Homo sapiens: one gene and its partner. The protein of the gene in region 2 purifies or fractionates together with the protein of the main gene of each other region. This does not show direct contact. Each region holds a gene or a part of one and is shown on either strand. Other genes may lie near its edges. The genes, in order: LZTR1 and RIT2.

The links.
Region 1: the proteins of RIT2 (region 2) and LZTR1 purify together in Homo sapiens (affinity purification with mass spectrometry; 3 studies listed by BioGRID and IntAct, with this or other methods). This does not show direct contact.

What each region holds. Positions count from the first base shown.
Region 1 is NC_000022.11:20,992,297-21,001,395, forward strand, and holds the end of LZTR1 (leucine-zipper-like transcriptional regulator 1), read left to right. Parts: coding exon 1-73; intron 74-497; coding exon 498-608; intron 609-1,365; coding exon 1,366-1,458; intron 1,459-1,627; coding exon 1,628-1,723; intron 1,724-1,807; coding exon 1,808-1,973; intron 1,974-2,261; coding exon 2,262-2,431; intron 2,432-2,573; coding exon 2,574-2,730; intron 2,731-3,449; coding exon 3,450-3,576; intron 3,577-3,666; coding exon 3,667-3,816; intron 3,817-4,399; coding exon 4,400-4,505; intron 4,506-4,589; coding exon 4,590-4,670; intron 4,671-4,935; coding exon 4,936-5,052; 3' UTR 5,053-6,736; downstream 6,737-9,099. Other genes in the region: THAP7 (THAP domain-containing protein 7), read right to left, coding at 7,584-8,136, 8,351-8,491, 8,960-9,099. UniProt on the Homo sapiens protein: Substrate-specific adapter of a BCR (BTB-CUL3-RBX1) E3 ubiquitin-protein ligase complex that mediates ubiquitination of Ras (K-Ras/KRAS, N-Ras/NRAS and H-Ras/HRAS).
Region 2 is NC_000018.10:43,104,312-43,114,789, forward strand, and holds part of RIT2 (GTP-binding protein Rit2), read right to left. Parts: intron 1-10,478.

The DNA of each region.
Region 1 (9,099 bases), on a different chromosome or scaffold from region 2:
GAAGTCCCGAGATGTGTTTGGCCTGGACTTTGGCACCACCTCAGCCAAGCAGCCCACCCAGCCTGCCTCGGAGGTACAGGCTGGGATCCTCATTAAGACTCCATCACCCCCTGAAACAGGTCCTGTGATCAACACCTCTCACACATGGGGAGACTGAGGCCCCGAGAAATACTTGCTTGGGGTCACACCACAAAGGGGGTACAGGGCCAAGGGCCCTCACCCTGCTGGCCAGGCTGCAGCTTTCTGGGGTGGGTGCCACACACTGGCCCAAGTGCCCTGACCACTCTGAGGGTCTCCATGGCCCGTCATGCCCCACTCGCCTACATGGGTACCAGGTCCCACCTGTGTCTGTACCCAGGGGCCCTCATCCCTTGGGGACCCTGCCCCCTGGCCCTTCATGGCCATGAGGTGCCGCATCCTTGCCTTACCTGGCTGCACCAGCCGCACTGTGGAGGCTCTGCTCCCCCACCATTCCACCCTGCCTTCTTGTCCCCCAGCTGCCCAGTGGGAGGCTCTTCCACGCGGCTGCTGTCATCTCGGACGCCATGTACATCTTCGGGGGCACGGTGGACAACAACATCCGCAGCGGGGAGATGTACAGGTTCCAGGTGTGGGGCCTGTGGGCCTGTAGAGCCGGCTGGGTGGACGGATCCCCCGTGATGAGAAACTGAGGCCAAGTTGGGGGGCAGGGCTTATCCAGGCCATTGCCAGGGCCACACCTGGCAGGATGGAAGCCTTGGGAGGAGCCCTGTGGGCTGAGGGTGGGCTGAGGTGGCACTAAAGTGGGCAGCCTTCGTGCAGTGGGGCAGGCAGATGGTGCTGGGGCTCACGGCAGAGTCAGTGGAGGGAGCCGGGCCAAGCTGGGCTCAGCACCAGAGCCTCACAGGCATCATAGCCTGGCCCAGGGCAGAGCCAGGGCCGACAGTGGCTTGCGTTGACAGCCCCTTCCCAGGCCTGGAGGAGCAGGTGGTCAGGGCAGGGACTCACAGCCACAGTGAGGTCAGGGCCAGCTTCCTGGAGGAGGTTGGGATGTGCTGGTGGGGGCCAGTGTGAGGACGCAGGTCCAGGCAGAGTGGAGACGGCAGAGCTCTGCTGAGGCCTGGGGCCCAGCCGAAGGCAAGAGAGGCAGGGGAGCCCTTTCCTGCTGTGGAGCCGGCCGTGGACAGTTGCAGGTGCTGAGGCTGGAGCCAGGCTGTATTTTCAGGGTGGGGTAGCGGCTGCTTCCTCTCCTCAGCCAGGCCCACCTGCCTCCTGGGCCCTGAGGGTCAGCATGGGCCAGGTGGGGACCTCAGGGTCGGCCTGCACAGCCACACTGGGGCCACCCTGCTGTCTGCAACATCTAGTCTCACTGGGCCCCTCTTGCAGTTCTCCTGTTACCCTAAATGCACGCTGCACGAGGACTACGGGCGGCTGTGGGAGAGCCGCCAGTTCTGCGACGTGGAGTTCGTGCTGGGTGAGGTGGGTGCCTGTCCTCGCACCCTGCTCTGCCTGCTGTGCCTGGGCAGTGGGAATTTCGCCCCTCAGAAAAACAGCTGCTGGCCTGGTGGTGCTGACCTTGGCTGGCTGGGTCTCTGTTCTCTGGGGCGAGGGTCCTGTGCCCTCTGCCAGTGCATCATTCTTTGTGCAGAAGGAGGAGTGCGTGCAGGGCCACGTAGCCATTGTCACAGCGCGGAGCCGCTGGCTTCGCAGGAAGATCACGCAGGCGCGGGAGAGGCTGGCCCAGGTGAGGTGCCTAACCGCCCTGCCCTGACCTGGCAGCCATGCCTGGTGTCCACTGGGGTGTCCTTGAGCTCCCTTCTCCCCACAGAAGCTGGAGCAGGAGGCCGCCCCAGTTCCCAGGGAGGCCCCCGGCGTGGCTGCTGGTGGGGCCCGGCCGCCCCTGCTGCACGTGGCCATCCGGGAGGCCGAGGCCCGGCCCTTCGAGGTGCTCATGCAGTTCCTCTACACCGACAAGATCAAATACCCACGGAAAGGTCCGCCTGGGTGGGGGTGGAGCAGGGTTGGTGTGGGCTGGGGTGCGGGCAGCAGAGCCAAAAGGTGGGTGCTGCCAGCCCTGCCTTACTGATGGGCCCCCTGAGGCTCAGAGGCTGCAGGTCACCCTCCTTACCCATGATCACTGCAGCTGGACGCCATCTGAGTCCCCCGAGGCCTTGTTCCTACCTAGTGGCCCCAGCCCACACTCTTCCATGGGGGGAGCCCTGCGCCCTGTGCCCTGCCCTCCCCTCTCCGGCTCCCTGAGATTCGGGGGCTCTGGGGCGCAGGCCATGTGGAGGATGTGCTGCTCATCATGGATGTGTACAAACTGGCACTGAGCTTCCAGTTGTGCCGCCTGGAGCAGCTGTGCCGCCAGTACATCGAGGCCTCCGTGGACCTGCAGAACGTGCTGGTTGTGTGCGAGAGTGCCGCCCGGCTGCAGCTGAGCCAACTCAAGGTGTGGGGTGGGGTCAGCGCAATCAGGGTTGGGTGGGGTGTGCTCAGGCTTAGGCCCCCTCCCTGCCCACCACTGTGAGCCCCTCGCCCAGCCTGGGGCCCTGGCTTGACTCTGCCTGCCTGCCTGTGCCTGTCTGCCCCAGGAGCACTGCCTGAACTTCGTGGTAAAGGAGTCCCACTTCAACCAGGTGATCATGATGAAGGAGTTCGAGCGCCTCTCCTCTCCACTGATAGTGGAGATTGTGCGGCGGAAGCAGCAGCCGCCCCCTCGCACTCCCTTGGACCAGCCAGTGGACATTGGTAGGGAGCCCCGTTCCCCTTCCCTGGGGGCTGGGAGGGATGGTGTTCATCTGCGGTAGGAGATTGGGAGCCATGGAGAGCACCTGCCAGGCCCTCGGGGTGGGGGTGGGTGCCATGGGACCCCAGAGTGCTCTCCTGGGTACAGGGAGGAAACAGATGAAGGCAGAAGCCCCCGACCCATGGGGCTTGCCACAGTGGGCTGTGTCCTGGTGACCTGGGATTTCCTGAGCCAATTTCTGGGGGTGGACATGGGGCACCTCTTTCGGGCTAGGATGTCAGGTCTGATGGCCCAGGGTCACGGTGATCAGTCTCTGGACTTCTCTTTGCTTGTAATGTCACAGGCCCCTTCATTCCCCCAGCTCTCCCTGGGGCTTGTGCTGACCCCGGTTGCTGGCTCTTGGTGATGTCTGCAGGCACCAGAGGCCATGCAGTGGGCCTGGAGGGGGCTTGATCATGAGGTCAGCGAGGGGGTACAGCAAGCTGGGTGGAAGATGAGACGCTGGGTGGTGGGCTGTGCGTGGGGCATAGTGCTTGAGTCGGCCAGGGCGCCGAGGGAGGACAGAATGTGGCTGATGGTACCTCAGGGCGAGTGAGGCCTTCTGCCTGGGTGAAGTTTTGTTCAGGGCAGCAACATGGGCAGATATGCAGGAAGGTAGTGCCGTGGGGCCCCAAGGCCAGAATCCCAGGCTGTACCTGCTCAGGGACCCTCCTACCCCCAGGCACATCTCTGATCCAGGACATGAAGGCATACCTGGAGGGAGCGGGCGCGGAATTCTGTGACATCACTCTGTTGCTTGACGGGCACCCACGGCCAGCCCACAAGGCTATCCTGGCCGCCCGCTCCAGGTGGGTGGGGGCTGGACAGGAGGGGAGGGTGGGCCTGGATGGTGTCTTCGTTCTGCTGACGGCCAGGTGCCTACCGCTCGTTGTCTGCAGCTACTTTGAAGCCATGTTCCGGTCCTTCATGCCCGAAGATGGGCAGGTGAACATCTCCATCGGGGAGATGGTGCCCAGCAGGCAGGCCTTCGAGTCCATGCTGCGCTACATCTACTACGGCGAGGTCAACATGCCGCCCGAGGACTCGCTGCATCCTCACTCCCCAGTGAACTCCCAGGTCCCCACCAAGGGGTCCTGGCACCCACCTCAGGTGGCTTTGAGGCCCGCTCTCCTGCCCCAGCTAGGTGATCTGGGCCCAGCGCCTCCCTCCAGAGGGTTTGCTGGTGCCTGGGGCTGGGCCTGGTGCTCTCTGAAGCAGTTGGCAGCTGGCAAGGAGGGGTTTGCAGCCAGGAGGAACCAGTGGGTTCCTGACCCTCACAACTGCCCAGAGGACGGGGTGGGTCATTGCTTTGTGTGACAGTTGAGCACAGACATGGAGGTACTCCTTATGTCACTTCAGTAGGGGTCTGAACATGGAGGGTCAGGATGCCTGTTAGGCCTGCAAGGCCATGGAACAGCGCTACAGATGTACAGACACTATTTTTCTCGGGAGGGGATTCATGGTTTTCTTTGGATCCTGAATGGGGCCTTTGACCCACTAAGTAGTTCAGAATCCATTTGGAGAGCATGCTGGCGTGGGGGCTTGGGGCTCCAGCTGCGCCCTTCCCTGTCCTTCCCTGGGAGGGTGCGGGCGGACCAGCTTCCTTTAGTCAGCTCCTTAACCAGGCCCCAGCTACTTGTTTGCGGCCCCCTACTACTACGGCTTCTACAACAACCGGCTGCAGGCGTACTGCAAGCAGAACCTGGAGATGAACGTGACGGTGCAGAACGTGCTGCAGGTAGCCCCCCAGCCCCGTGCACATGGCTGCAGCTCCCACTGAGTGGGTGAAAGGGGCAGCGCCTCAAGGTCCCTGCCATTGCAGATCCTGGAGGCAGCTGACAAAACGCAGGCACTGGACATGAAGCGGCACTGCCTGCACATCATTGTGCACCAGTTCACCAAGGTCAGGGCTCTGGCCTCCCCTTCAGGACTCGCTTCCCCTTGGCAGTGGCCATGCCCAGGCAGGGAGGGTGCCCAGGCTCTGTGGTCCCCTGCAGTGGTGGGCCCTGGGGGTGAGAGAAGCAGAGCAGCCCATCACTGGCCGCACCTTGCTTCATCCTTGGGACCAGCCTGAGCCCTGAGCAGGGTAGGCCCCACAGGGCTCCACTGCCCACCATGGCCCTTAGGTGGATCTGGTCCCATCTCCTTCCGGCCTGCTTGCCTTACAGGTCTCCAAGTTGCCCACCCTGCGGTCGCTGAGCCAGCAGCTGCTGCTGGACATCATAGACTCCCTGGCCTCCCACATCTCAGACAAGCAGTGCGCAGAGCTGGGCGCCGACATCTGAGGCCCTGTGGCGCCTGCCCATTGTGAAGAATCGCCGTGCCTGCCTGCCCTGCCTACTGAGAAGACTACCGGCTATGCGCATGCCTATGGCAGTGGGTGCACCTGCCAGGCCAAGGGTCAGGGTGCCCAGAGCCTCCAAAGAGAGCTGAGGGGATGTGGGGCCCCAAACTCATTAATTCACTGAAGACACAGGTCCCACAGGGAGCGGATGATGAAGCAGACCCCCTCCTGTCATCACCCTCTCCTGGTGTAGTGTGGATGCGAGGCCACGGCTCAGTGATGGGCTCACCACCCAGAAGTGGGGAGAGACTTTGGGCCTCCCACCCAGTGGGGCTTGGCCTGGCTTCTGTGGCCTGGGCGTGTTGTGGACTCAGGCACTGGGGCCTGTCACCAAGGCTCCTCCAACATGCGGGAGGAGGCTTAGCAGACTTGCGCTGCACCAGCGAATCTGCCTGGGCTGCTCCTGTCCCACCCACCCTCACTGAGATCCATGTAAGGGGCTCCTCTTCCCACCTGGAACTTGTGAGTGGGGACCCATGATGTATGGGTCTCACCTGACTTGAGGTGAATTTTGGAGTGAAGGGCCCTGAGGTCAGCTCCCAGGTCGGTCGTGCTGGGCCAGGCCTGGTTTTCACAGGGGCTGAAGGATCCCAGTCCACCTGTGTGCATGTCAGGGCTCGGCCGGGAAGAAGCCAGCAAAGTCCCCCGTGTCCCTTGCTGAGTATTCTGTCACAGACAAGCCTCCATTAAAGCCACAGCAGTGCTACCCACCACACACACCTTGCTGGCCCGGCCACCACTGCTGGCTTCAGCCCCTTGAGCAGCCCATGGCTTAGCAGACCCCCAGATGTAGGTCAGTGGCCTTACCTGTCTCTATCCATGCTGTCAACTCCTGCCTCCACCTGGGGTCACCCAGTCACATTGGGAAGGGCTGTGAAGGCCTCCAGGCTGGCCCCTTCCAGGGGAATCCTGGAGGCCTGGGGTGGGCTCCTGCCCCTTCTGCCCTGCCTTGCCCCTGCACTATGCTCTTGGCTCCTGTGGAAGGAGGGCTGCCCTCTTGCCCTAGTGAGGGCCCCATGTGGATCCACTCTAGTGCTGGGAGCCAGCGCTCCCTTACTGGGAACAGGATTCCAGGACCCCTTTCTTGTTGTGGCTGCCATGAAGCCACAGCTCCTTGGGGAAGTGACCTGCTCTCCTTTGGGTGTATGCAGGTGTGTGGGGGGCCCTGAGTGGCAAGTTGCTTAGCTAACAGGAGATCCATAGGCAGCCTGCAGGCTAGGAAGTGGCCTAGTGCAAGATGAGCTGGGAACAAGGGAGGAGAGAGCAGGAGCTGGGGCAGAGGCTGAGCCGGGAGGCCCTTGAGGTGAGGACACAGCAGGCCCAGGACCATGGCTGGGGAGGATATGTCAGCACCTGGAAGTGGAGTGCAGGCTGCAGCGCCCAGCCATGTGGGCCAGGTGCATTCACTCAGAGTGGGGCCACACACCCATCTACCCAGTTTCCACAAGATGTGGCTCCTGCCACACCCACAGGGCAGCCTCCTCCAAATCCCTCCTGGAGGGGCCTACCCAGAAGCCTCCTTGAACCAGTCTGCAACCCTGCTCTATGCTGACCCTTGTCACTGAACCCTGATCTAGACTTATATGAATAAATGAAATTACATGCCAAGGGCCCTAAAAAGCAAATTTTACGAAATTGTGTGGCAGTTTCTGGGACTAGAATGAATTTCATTTGTGCTCCTCGGCAGGGAGAGGCCATACTTGCAGTGAGTCACCCCAAGACGGAGCTGTTTGAGAACTGCAGCTGCAGCAAGGCCTTCCAGGTTCCTGGGAGTTGAAGGAAAAGGATGCTGAGGCCAGGACCTGAGTGCTTGTCTCCATGTTCTGGCCACCTCTTCCTAGATTTCCAGGGACTAGCTTGTTGGGGCTTTACTACCTGCTGACATGACCCAGGAGGTTGATGATTGTCATCATCATCCCCGTTTTTCAAATAGAGATGGTAGTGAAGGGGGCGGGGAGAGGGTTGTCCAGCTTACCCACCAGGCTGATGGGGCCTGTGGACAGAAGCCTGTCATGCTCCTGCTTGAGAACCGGATCTAGACTGGGTTTTAGAAGTGTTCTCAAAGGGGCTGGCTGGTTTAAGTCAGGGCTGTTTCAGATCCTATGGAAAGGGCGCCTGGAGCTGTCTTCCTGGCCCCTACTCACACCATCCTGCCCCTTCAGAGAACCCTGTGGGGCACGGAGCTGCGCTAGCAGGGCTGACTGCCACCTGTCTACCAGTAGCTCTGAGGGGTGAGAGCCAGGCTCCCTGTTCTCCTTGGCAAAGAGCTTGGACTGAGCCCTCTAGGAGCTGCAGCCACTGTCTGGGGCAGCAAGCTTAGTACTCAGAGGGGCTCCAGCCCCCAGCTGAGCCAGACAGCAGGCCCTCCGTCTAGAATCCGCTTTATTATGGCACCTGGTGGGTCTGGTGGGATCTGAGGGAGGAAGAGGCTGCAGTCTTGCTGGGCAGCCCCTCGGTCAGTCCAGCAGCCCCTCAGGCCATGCTGCTGCTCAGCTGCATGGCAAAGTCCTGCACATGCTCCTTCAGAGTCTGGCGGGCATCTGCCTGTGCCCGCTTCTCCCGTGCCCGCTCCTGCTGCAGCTTGGTCAGTCTCAACCGCAGCCGCTGCTCCCGCCGCTTGCAGGCCTGCAGCTGGCGCTGGGCCTTGTCAAGGGCATCAAGGGCTGCCTCGGCTCGCCGCTTCCAGAGTAAGGCGCTGCCCACCTGGTAGCTGTGTTCATTCTGGATGTAGGCTCCGGCGGGTGGGGGCAGGCGCAGCATATACGCTGAGGGGGAGACTGGCCGTGGTTCGAGAGGGGAGGGCTGCCGCTCTGGTGAAGGCTGGGCGCTGCAGCCTGCTTCATCTGCCTGGGCACCCAAGGGGCCCAGTAGGTCTGAAAAGGGGCTGCTAAGGCCAGGCTCCAGCCTCCCAGCTGGGGAGGCCGGCAAAGTGGCAGGTGCTGAGGCCTCTTCCACAGGAAAGCAGGTGACATCAGCAGGTGGAGGTGGAGAAAATGGAGTTGTGGGCCCTCGGCCCTCGGAGCAGCTGGTAAGGGGGAAGAGAGAGACTGATGGGCTAGGCTGAGGGCTTGCCAGACCCCCCTCCACCAGCCCACCTGATCCACCCTTAACACCCAAACCCGATCCACAGGTTCTGTGTAGCAAGAACCCTGTCCAGCGAGACTGCTGGCAGACACCCCTAGGGCCCAGTCCCTCAGCCTAGGGGTGGGAGTGGGGCATCCCCCACCCATATCACATACCGCTTCCTGCATCGTCTGAGCCGGCTGACTTCAGCGGGGCCAGGTGGGTAACTGTGTCCTTTGGTCTTGGTTGTCCGGCGCAACTTGGAGAAAGACTCAAATATGGTGGGGACTGCCCCCTCCTTTAGCCTGTGATATCCACTGCGGGGAAAAGCAACCCAGATGAGCTGGAGAGCAAGTGCTGCCTCCCCAGGCCAATCTGCCCCCAGCAGCAGCGCCGTGGGATGCTGGAAGGCATCGTGCAAACAATACGTCTGGGGAACGCCAAGTTACAGCTACACCAATCGCTTCCCCGCAGGACTCCTCACAGTCCAGGTGTGTGGAAAGCCTGCATAAGCCGAGCTGGGCTGACCAGCCAGAAAGAATTCTTTGATTTGTGGACTTGCTGGCAAGACTGGGGCTCTGAAAGATACTCTCTGGAAAGGCTCCTGTTTTCCCCTTGTGTCACAGGCACAGTGATCCTGGGGGTGGGTTTCACTGTGCAGAGCTGGGAACAGGAAACAGCCCCCTTGGACGCAGGCTGCTCAAGGGACTTCCATGACCTGCAGCTGTCCCAGTCCGCCGGGAGCCCCACATCCTACCCCAGCGTCGGCCGGCAGGGAGGCCCACCTGATTCCCACCAGCTCAAAGCAGTCCTCCTCAAAGTGTTTGGAGCAGAAGTAGATGTACTCGGATGCCGGGTCCCACAGGCCCTGGCCGCTGGGGTCCAGCCGCTGGCAGTTGGCCAGCCACAAGCCTCGCCTCGGGTT
Region 2 (10,478 bases):
AGATACAAAATCACAGCTAGATGGGAGGAATGAGTTCTGGTGTTCCACAGCGCTATATAATGAATGTGGTTGGCTATAATTTATTGTGTATTTTCAAAAAGTTAGAGAGGATTTTAATGTTCACAGCACAAAGAAGTAATAAATGTTTGAGGTGATAGATATCCTAATTACCATTATTTGATCATTATACATTGTATACACCTATGAAAATAACACATAAATACATATGATTATTACTTGTCAACTAAAAATGAAAGGGAAAAAAAAAGATGCTGAGGTATTCCAGACTTCTGTTACTCAGAATTTGCCAATATAAAATCCCTAATATTTTTCCACTGATTTCAGTCCTAAGATAATTATATTGGAATAAAGTATGAAATATTTCTAAACAGTAAATAAATAAATAAATAAATATAATAGGCAGGAACCAATTAGCTGAAGTTTTTACAATTTCAAATAAAAGATGTGCCCTTTTGCTACCAAATAAAGAGCCTGATTTCTTCAATTAAACAAAAATCTGTATCCATGTAGCTTATTATTAGCTTTTCCTGCAACCATTAAATATGACTCTTTCCCTTTAAATGTTCAGTGTTGCTACTATGGAGAATGGAAGACATGTCATATTACTCAAAATTTATTAAAACAATACACAAATTGGAAAAATTAATTTCAGTCTGGATTCAAGCAGAGGCATGCTCTGTTAAAAGCCATAGCCCCTCTAATCAGGCCCTTTGTGGGCTATTGTAGCAGGCAATTGTCCTCCAGTCCTTTCTCTAACAGGCAGTGTGCTGTGTGTGTGTGTGTGTGTGTGTGTGTGTGTTTGTGTGTGTGTGTGTGTGTTTGTGTGTGGTATGGGTCAATTAGGATGAATAAAGGGATTGTTTACTAAGGTAACTAGTAAACTACTTTTATTACTGTCACTGAAATTACCACTCAGGAGACCAAAGCAGAAACTAATCAATATAAGGATCTAGAGAGCAAGAACAAGAATAGAGCAGGTGCATATACAATGGCAGTTTTACAATATTCAACCCAAATTGTATTTTCCTAGGACCTATCTGAAATATGTGTCACTACTCTTCCCTATGTTACAGAGGTAAACTGCCTTAGGTGGAGGCATGGAAGGAAGGAACAAAAAAAGGAAGGGAGGAAGGGAGGAAGAGAGGAAGGGAGGAAGGGAGGAAGAAAGGGAGGGAGGGAGGGAGGGAATGAGCAGTTTTAATGAAGGTGTAATATTGGGCAATATAATCTATAGTTTTTATTTAGTATTTTCCAATGTCATCTACCCAGCAATTCTCTGAGGATATTTTAATTAAAGCCCTTAATGAGGAAAAGGGAGACTCAAAGAGCTTAAGTGACCTGTGCAACGTCAAGTGTTGTTAAGGGTAAATAAATAAAAACAAAGCTATCCATTTACGTTATAAACTTTGTCCCACAGTTTGTGCCAGGCTATGTAATTAATATTCTGAGTATGAACCGTTACAGTAGTTATTATTGTCATCCCCATTTTACAGATGAGAAAAGACAAATATGGATTTCCTGGGTTACCCAAACCCCCAGTTCACATTATTCTGTCATCACTTCTATGGTAGGGCTTCATTCTACAGATTGAAGGTTGATCAAAATAATATATGGTAACGAGCACAGTGGACAGTGGTTAAGGGCCTCAGCTCTGGCAGTGGTTGAGTCCTGCATAGTCACCTCAGGCTCTGGGTTCCTGAGTGAATTACTCACCATCTTCAAGCTTTATTGTTCTCATCTATTAATTAGAGATATTAACCACACCCACACTTCTGGGTTTAGTGAGACTTAATAAATTAACATATTTAGTGCATTTTGAACAGGGTCAGGTATATGCAAAACTCAGAAGTGTTCACTTTTATTTTGCCATTCATTGCAGGAAGAAATTGAAAGAATAATAGTTTGGACAAAACAAGAAACATTCCTCTTTTGTGAATGCACGCAGATTTATGAACACAAACACACACTTTATTGCTCATTTTAAAGCATATTAAGAGGAAATGTGAACTGGTAAAGTGTCTAAGGACTTCTGATTCATTCAATAAGTGACTACCCAAACATTGATTTTCACATATACAAGAAATCTTCTGATAAAGAACTTCCCTCATCCACCACCACCACAACTTCTCTAACTATAATTGTTAAAAATCTTTATTCGGCGTTCCATTGTAAGACCACAAATTATCTACACTATCTCATTTCAGTTCAATTAAAGATTTTTTCCTGGGACTGCAAATATAGTTTTCTCTCTGATTTCCTTTTCAATGCAACATCTCCAGGGAGGCCCCAGTCCCCCACTCCCCCTTCGGCTTTACATCCTTCATGCATACTTTAGGAAGAATCAGGTTTCTATCTGCCCAATACACATGGCAGTGGCAGGATGCTGAAATGCTTGGAGTATTTGGGGACCAGAACTATCAATACTCTCACGCTGAAGCTGTGGTGTTAGCTGAAGTAGAATTATAGTAGGCAGAAAGGGCAGAAATGATGGTCTGGCAGAGTGACTAGCAATGGCACTTAGCTGGTCCCTGCTGAGCAATGAGAAGGACAGGTAGCACTGTTTGGTCAGGGTCACCAGAAAGCTGGTATTTATTTATGAGGAAAGCCCAAGTGATTGAGTAGATATCATTGATGGGCTTTGCAAATAGCCAGATTCATTGATAAAAGTGCACCTTCCATGTCTGTGAGCAGTACAGAGGACCACCGTCTGTCAATGTGTACAGTCGCAATCCCACCACACTGCAAACACACACACGCACAGAAATAATCGGTCATAGGCAGCAGGTTGATCTCCAGTGAGATTTTATGCTGGTTTATGGGAGGCAAAATGGCCTATTGGAAAAATTCATGCTCTAGAAAGTCAGGAGACTCTAGTCCCAACGCTACAGATGAACAGCTGAACAATGTATGGTAGGTCATTTTATCTTTCTAAGCCATAGTTCTCATTGCTTCCAAAATACCTCCCATGCATCTCTATCATTGCCTCACAAGTCTGTTTATACATCTTGTTTGTTACCCTGGTGGACAGGGCAGAGGCTGTGTCTAATTCTTGGTCATATCTGTGGGCTTTTCACAGGTCTAGGCGTGCACGCGTGCGTGCACGCATACACACACAAACACTCTTTTGTCAGTTTCTATTAATTATTCCAAAATGTATATGTTTAAAGAAAGTATGCTTCCCTAAGCAAATCAGCACCTAATTTCAAAAATCGGTATGGTTTACTCAGCACCCTGTTTACTTTCTTTGTTTGCATGATCCCAGGTTTCAATAAATTCCTATAATTACTGGGTTACTTGGTTTTCTCAAGTTGAAAGGAATTGTCACCTTCTCTCTATGTGGTTGAGGCCCCCAGGGGTCTCTGAATAGACAAGAACAAACCAGTCTTTGGCACCTCCATGCTAAATTGTTTAGTCAGAGCTCCTCATGCCACTCACTACCCCATCTAATAAGCGTAGCACTCTCCGTTGTTTGTGTAGAAAATTAAAAATATTAAAATATTTTCATATAGACGATTTTGTGTGATGTTTAAAATACATGCATGAAAATGTGGCCGGGTGCAGTGGCTCACGCCTGTAACCCCAGCCCTTTGGAAGTCCGAGGCGGGTGGATGACGAGGTCAGGAGATCGAGACCATCCTGGCTAACACGGTGATACCCCGTCTCTACTAAAAATACAAAAAAAAAAAAAAAAATTAACCGGGCATGGTGGCGGGTGACTGTAGTCCCAGTTATTCGGGGAGGCTGAGGCAGGATAATGGTGTGAACCCAGGAGGCAGAGCTTGCAGTGAGCCGAGATTGCACCAGTGCACTCCAGCCTGAGTGATAGAACGAGACTCCATCTCAAAAAAAAAAAAAATGCAGCTGAAGTTAGAACTCAGGTTCACTGTATCATGTCTTCAAAAAATAAAAACTTTCAGGTGAGAAAATAAAAATAATGTAAACATCGAACTTAGACATCCATATGTAGGCACATTAGGTTCATCATTTAATATCTATGTGCCTTGGGCCATATTACGTGTGTGTGTGTGTGTGTGTGTGTACCTCAGTTTTCTCACTTATAAAACGCAGACAGTAAAGCCTTCCTCACAAGATCAAGGCAGGGTGAGGGGTATAGTAAGGCAAGGGAATGTGACAGACCATCAGCCAGCAAAACACCAAAGCAAATGCGTGAACGTAAAGAGCTCAGCAACATGTGGGCTCATTGAGGGATTATTACATGCTCGTTCATCTCCAGTCATAGATGGGGCAGACATATCATATAGTACTCATGTAGAGCTGTAGAAACTCTCTTTCATCAATTTAAAATCTACAGAGTGCATATAATCTTGGAGATGTTGTCAATCAAAGCCTTTCGCCTGAATTCTGTTTTCAATCATTATTTGAGTGAGTAGATACCAATTTACTCTTTTACTGAGCCTTATTTAGACCTCTTGGCTAATGCTTCCTGACAGTATTGCAGTGAGTGATGGTCTGCAGTACAACTGAGGTGGTAACAATTAAGGGTGAGAACAGAAGGCCCTGGAATCTTAAAATCTTTTTGCTTTCCCCTTGTTTATTTTGTTTCTTTTGCCTTACAGTCCACAGGGTTAGGATAACGCATGGCCACGATGTGACAATTGTTGAGCTTTGTCAGACTCAAAGTTCTGCTAATGAAGTAAAATACAGAGGCTGTGGGACATGAATGATGCACTTGGTTGCTTGCCTTGATTTAATTCATCAGATAAAGGCTCAACTTCCTACCTGCTTTCCTAATTCACTGAGGTGGAAGGAATTGGTTGTGTGCTGCTTTCCGTTTACCTCAGAGATATTGTTACTGCTTTCTCTTTATAAAATCCTGCTACATGAAACTGAATTTGCAGAGGCAACAAACTGCACATGGCCGTGGGAGAGAATATGTTTGTTTATTTTAGAAATCAGTTTTTTCTTTACAAAGAATTCACAATGGAAACATTCTAATAAATTCTGAGTTCCCTAATCCTTTTTGGGTTTTCAGTTTATTTGTGTTGTGTAACTTTTTCACAGTTAACTGAAGCATCTATTGAGCAAATCTCAAAAGATATTTTTTCAACTACCACTTAGAGACACTAAATTATCAAGATGCTGCCATTAAAAATTATAAGCCTTCAGATCCCTTTGTGCCCCTGTATACACTGTTTATGTTCAATTCTTTCCCTTGGATCTCCCCATACTTTTCTTCTTCAGCATCAAAAAAATCCTCCTCATCCTTTAAGACATAATTTAAATACCATCTATGCTGTGATTTCTTCTCAACTTTCACATCTCTTATAGCCACCCCTTATACTGAGTTTCCAAAGCTCTTACATCAGAAGCCTAATATAAACTTATTGTTTTGTATTACACATTACAGCAAATTTTCCACCATGAGATGGTGCACTCCCAGAGGTCAGGAATCACCTGAAATCATAGTTGTGAATAACACTCCCTCCCTGCTCAATGACTTGCATAGTGTTTCATACATATTTCACATTTGAAGATGTATGTTGACAACATTTCACCAAATAATTCCAAGATGTGTCCTAGGGACCAGAGAAGGACATAAAGTTCTCATCTGACATTGGGAACCTTTTTCTGCTTTTCCCATACAATTTGATAGAAAAACAATTTAGATGTAGAAAGCCTGTGTTCATGTCCAGTCCTTATTTTCTGACTTTCCTACTAGACAAATCTCTTGATAGTTCTGTGCTTAGATACCTCTCCTACTTGCCTTCTTACTTTGTGATCAAATAAGATCATAATCAGAATAAGTAAAATGTTATTTTTACCCCAATTTTATGCGATAATATCTTATTTTGCAAAATATGATCATTATGAATCTTAAATTATTTAAATCTTAAAACATTATCATTATGTTAAGTGTATGCCTGTATACGAATATTTCCTTAACTCCATATATATATATACCCACTATGTACCCATAAAAATAAAAAAAATCAGTAAAATAAAAACCTACTAACTTAGAATAAATCCCAAATGCAGATATTTTCCAAAATACCTGGAAAATAAGATATTATTTTTATTAAATAAAATCTGTTGAATAAATTTGATTCTGAACTTGGAGAACCAGATGTGAAGCCAAGGAAGACAATATTTCATCATGCTCTGGCATTGAGGAACGGCCTTGCTGTTTCAAACCACAGTGACAAAGGTCAATATTTGAAACTGTTATAAGGATTGTTTAGGCTCCATAAAACTTTAAAACTGTAACCATGAGATTATTTTTATTTTTATTTTTTAGGGTGGGTGAGTGGCGGGCAGTGGAACAAAATGAGATAGAAGGCTAAAAGAAGATGCCTAAAAGATGCCTAACATACTGAACTTTATTGGATAATTTGTCTTTTTTGTTGTTTTCTTTTGGTTTTAGTTGTAATCACAGTTTGTAATATAAGTTTCTATTCTACTGTCATTTAATGTTATTTCACTGAATGTGTATGTGTGTATATATATGTGTGTTGTTTCTTAAGTAGTTTTCTCGTCATGAGTCTTATTTTTAAAATAAACTTTATTGTGTATATTTAAGGTATACAATATGATGTTGTGGGATACACATAGATAGTAAAATATTTACTATAGGAAAACAAATTAGCATATCCATCATTTCACATAGCTACTTTTTATAGGGGGTGGCAGTATCAGCAGCTAAAATCTACTAATTTATGCAGCACTAGCAACAATAGCCAAGATTTGGAAGTAACTTAAGTGTCCATCAACAGAAGAATGAATAAAATAAATGTGGTATATATACACAATGGAATACTATTCAGCTATATAAAAGAATGAGATCCAGTCATTTGCAACAGCATGCATGGAAATGGAGATCATTGTGTCAAGTGAAATAAGCCAGACACAGAAAGACAAACTTTGCATGGTCTCATTCATTTGTGGAAGTTAAAAATTAAAACAATTTAATTCATGGAGATAGTAGAATGATGGCTACCAGAGGCTGGAAAGGGTAGTAGGAAGAGGGAGTGGAGATGGTTAATGGGTACAAAATTGTGGTTAGATGGAATGAATAAGATCTAACATTTGATAGCACAACAGGGTCATTATCATCACAAATAAGTTATTGTACATTTTAAAATAACAAAAAAGTATAATGGAAGATTTATAACACAAATAAATGATGAATGTTTGAGGTGATGGATACACCATACCCTGATGTGATTATTATACACTGTATGCCTGTATCCAAATATCTCATGTACTCCATAAATATATACATGTATAAAATATATACACCTACTATGTACAAATAAACATAAAAAAATCTACTAATTTAGCATAAACCCCAAATAAAATATTATTACCTCTAGTCCTCATCCTATACATTAGATCTCTATACTTGTTCCTCCTAAATGTCTGCTACTTTGTATACATATCTGTTACTTTGTATGGTGCAGTTTTGATTCAGCTTACTCTGTGTAAAAATTGGGGAGTGATGGAAAAGCAGCTTCAATGGTGTCAGAAGGACTGGATTCTGGATCTGACTCTGCCACTGCTGTATAAATGACCTTTGCAGGTCTCTTCACCTCTCAATGCCTCAGTTTGGCCATTGTCCAAATAATTCTTGTGTATCCCTGTTTTCTCTGCAGTTAGTAACATTCTTGGACAATATTACATATAATTATAAAAATATAAATACAAATATTAATATTATATATTTATACAGAAGTATTATGCATAGTGTTCAATTAGGTTAAAGATTAAAGCGGCATAGATGTATAAATCAAAGTGATAGCCTAGATGGTTAAGATCTCTTCTAAATATAACATTCGAGACCTAGGAAATGCATTATCAATGGATCTGTTTTCTTCTTACTAGTGAGTGATGCAACTCTTTGTTCTTCTCAGAGCATTAAACATAATGTAGTAGAGTTAGATAAAACATCACAGAACTCTAAATTATTACCCCCATGACCAGGCACAAGTTATTTTTCTGACCTCTGTTTTTTCATCTGTGAAATAGAAATACCGACTCTGACTGTGGTTAGGACTGAGTATAAGCGTGAAATACATGTAGCCCATGCCTGCCATGCAATGGGGGCTTCATAAATGTTTACGTCCTTCATAGTAACTAGTATAGGACTGTGCATAATACGTGCTCAGTAAACTTTATTGATTACTTGTGGTTTAAAATTCCTCACATAAAGTACATTCATTAACTGACATATTTTAAATCTTGTGGGAATTCCTATTTCAGTAAAGTTGCAAATTCTTTTAAAAGTTTCTATTAAAAAATATTTTGGTAAAACATGGACAAAAACATTTCTCAGGCCAGGCACAATGGCTCATGCCTATAATCCCAGCACTTTGGGGGGCTGAGGCAGGAGCATTGCTTGAGGCCAGAAGTTTGAGACCAACCTGGGCAACATAGTGAGAGCCCATCTCTACAAAAAGAAAAATAAAAAAGAATAAATATTAATATACATAAAAAATCTCCAAGATTTTAAAAATTATAGTCACCATAAATTTAGTTTTTAATTCATGTTTAAGGCTGACTTGGACTTGACTCTCAGAATTGGAAACAGATGGTAGCTTGATGCATCTTCTTTAGTTTCTTCAGAAGAGCAGATCTCTTCTGGAAATCTCTTCACACAACCCAGGGTAATGGGGTTATACAATCCCTTCATATACCTCTGTTGATCTAAGTCTTTGATATGAAAAGTAGGTTTTAAAACGTATATTTTAGAGCCATGATCATGCCACTGCACCCCAGCCTAGGCTCAAATGAGATAAAATAAACCATGTATATTTTTAGCTCATTTGAAAGCAAATATTTTAACCTTCAATAGAAGGTTAATATTAAGAATCAGTGCTTGAATGTTTATATGCTGATGGAAGAACATCAGGTAAGTCACAGGGGAAAGTCCAAGGACCAGATGATTTTCTCACTGTGATTTCAAACATTTAGTCATAAGGACAGCATTTTCCAGGTGTGAAATTGTAGTATGAGAAATATTCTCTGGTGTAGTAGCCAAGGTTGCCATTTATATATAATCAATACAACTGAGCTGTTTATACTCCTTATCCTTATCTTTCTCTGAGAATGAGCTGGTCATTCCTGTCTTTTCATCTCACAGGAAAAGTTTTGTTCAAGTACTTAATTATGAATTGACTTCTATTGTACAAAGCAAAGATGAGAGCAAGCCAGGCCACTCTGTGGGCCATGTGTCACATTGAAAATCCATAGTCATTGGAACAGTAACAATGATCTGTCAGCACAAATAATACTTGGGAGAGATCAAAATAGAAGATAAAATATCACCACTATAATATCAGCAATATCACAAGAAAAGTGTGTTGCTGAAGGATGTTCCCGTCCAAAATCTCTTTTCTCCAAGTTTCATTTAGGTGGAATAAATTGAAGTAGGCTAAAAATCAGTCACTCTATCCCCACATCCCCCAAGCTCCTAAAAGCAAATACCTAACCAGCAAACAAAAGCAATACAGAGGCACATTATTGCGACAATTTCAGCATCTCCCTGACCTCACAAGCTGCTGGTGGCATTTAATGTGGATTGGTCTTTTGCCTGTTTTTTTTAAATCTGTTTTTCTCTCTTCTTCAGTATTTTATTCTCACATTGTTTATTTCTTTCTTCCTCACTGTATCTGACTGGATTCTTGTAAAGTATAACTTCATTTTATATAGATCATGTTGTCTCTATCCTTCCTCCATCCCTTCCTCCTTCCTTAAATCCTAACCTATTTTGATTCCTTCCTTCTCAAATCATTATATTTAGAGGAGAAAGCTTTTTAAAAATTCCTCATTTATACACAATTACAAAGCTTTTCTTTCATATTTTTGCCTCCCTAGAAGAGATGAATAATTTTTTTCACTTTGATATGCATTTTGCTACTGACCACATCCAGATGTACCTATTTCTTTTATTTTTTATGAGAATTCTCTTTTGTAGGGTGAGGAGAAGAGGTAGGGGTGCTGAATTTTATGTTTCTTACTATCTTTAACTTTGTTGTCCACTAAAGTCACAATCTCCTTCCTCTTCCTTTACTGTTCAGTTTTCCTATCCCTTGTGGACCCATCCACCAAAGTTGTTAGTTTTTTGGTTTCTTCTGCCGAAAATATTGTCTTCGTCTTTTAATTTTTTTGTCAACACTAAAACTACTGATTTGTTTTGATGCTTTTTGTCCATGCTAACTATAATATTTTTTCTACCTTTTAGAATTCCCAAAGATATATTCCCAGTGGAGATATTTAATATTTATATAAAAAGCTATATTTATTTATTTTCTAGTGATAGCCATAGCTCCGAGCTATCTAACATTTGATCAGCCAAAAAACTACTATGTATCTATTTTTTTAATTTTTTTATATTTGGCCTTTTAGGCTCCTCAAGAATCCCAACAACTGACACTTCCGTTCTTTATGTACCAAAAGAAATTTGCTATTCTTCATCTCTATTATCACCTCATCTTCATTTA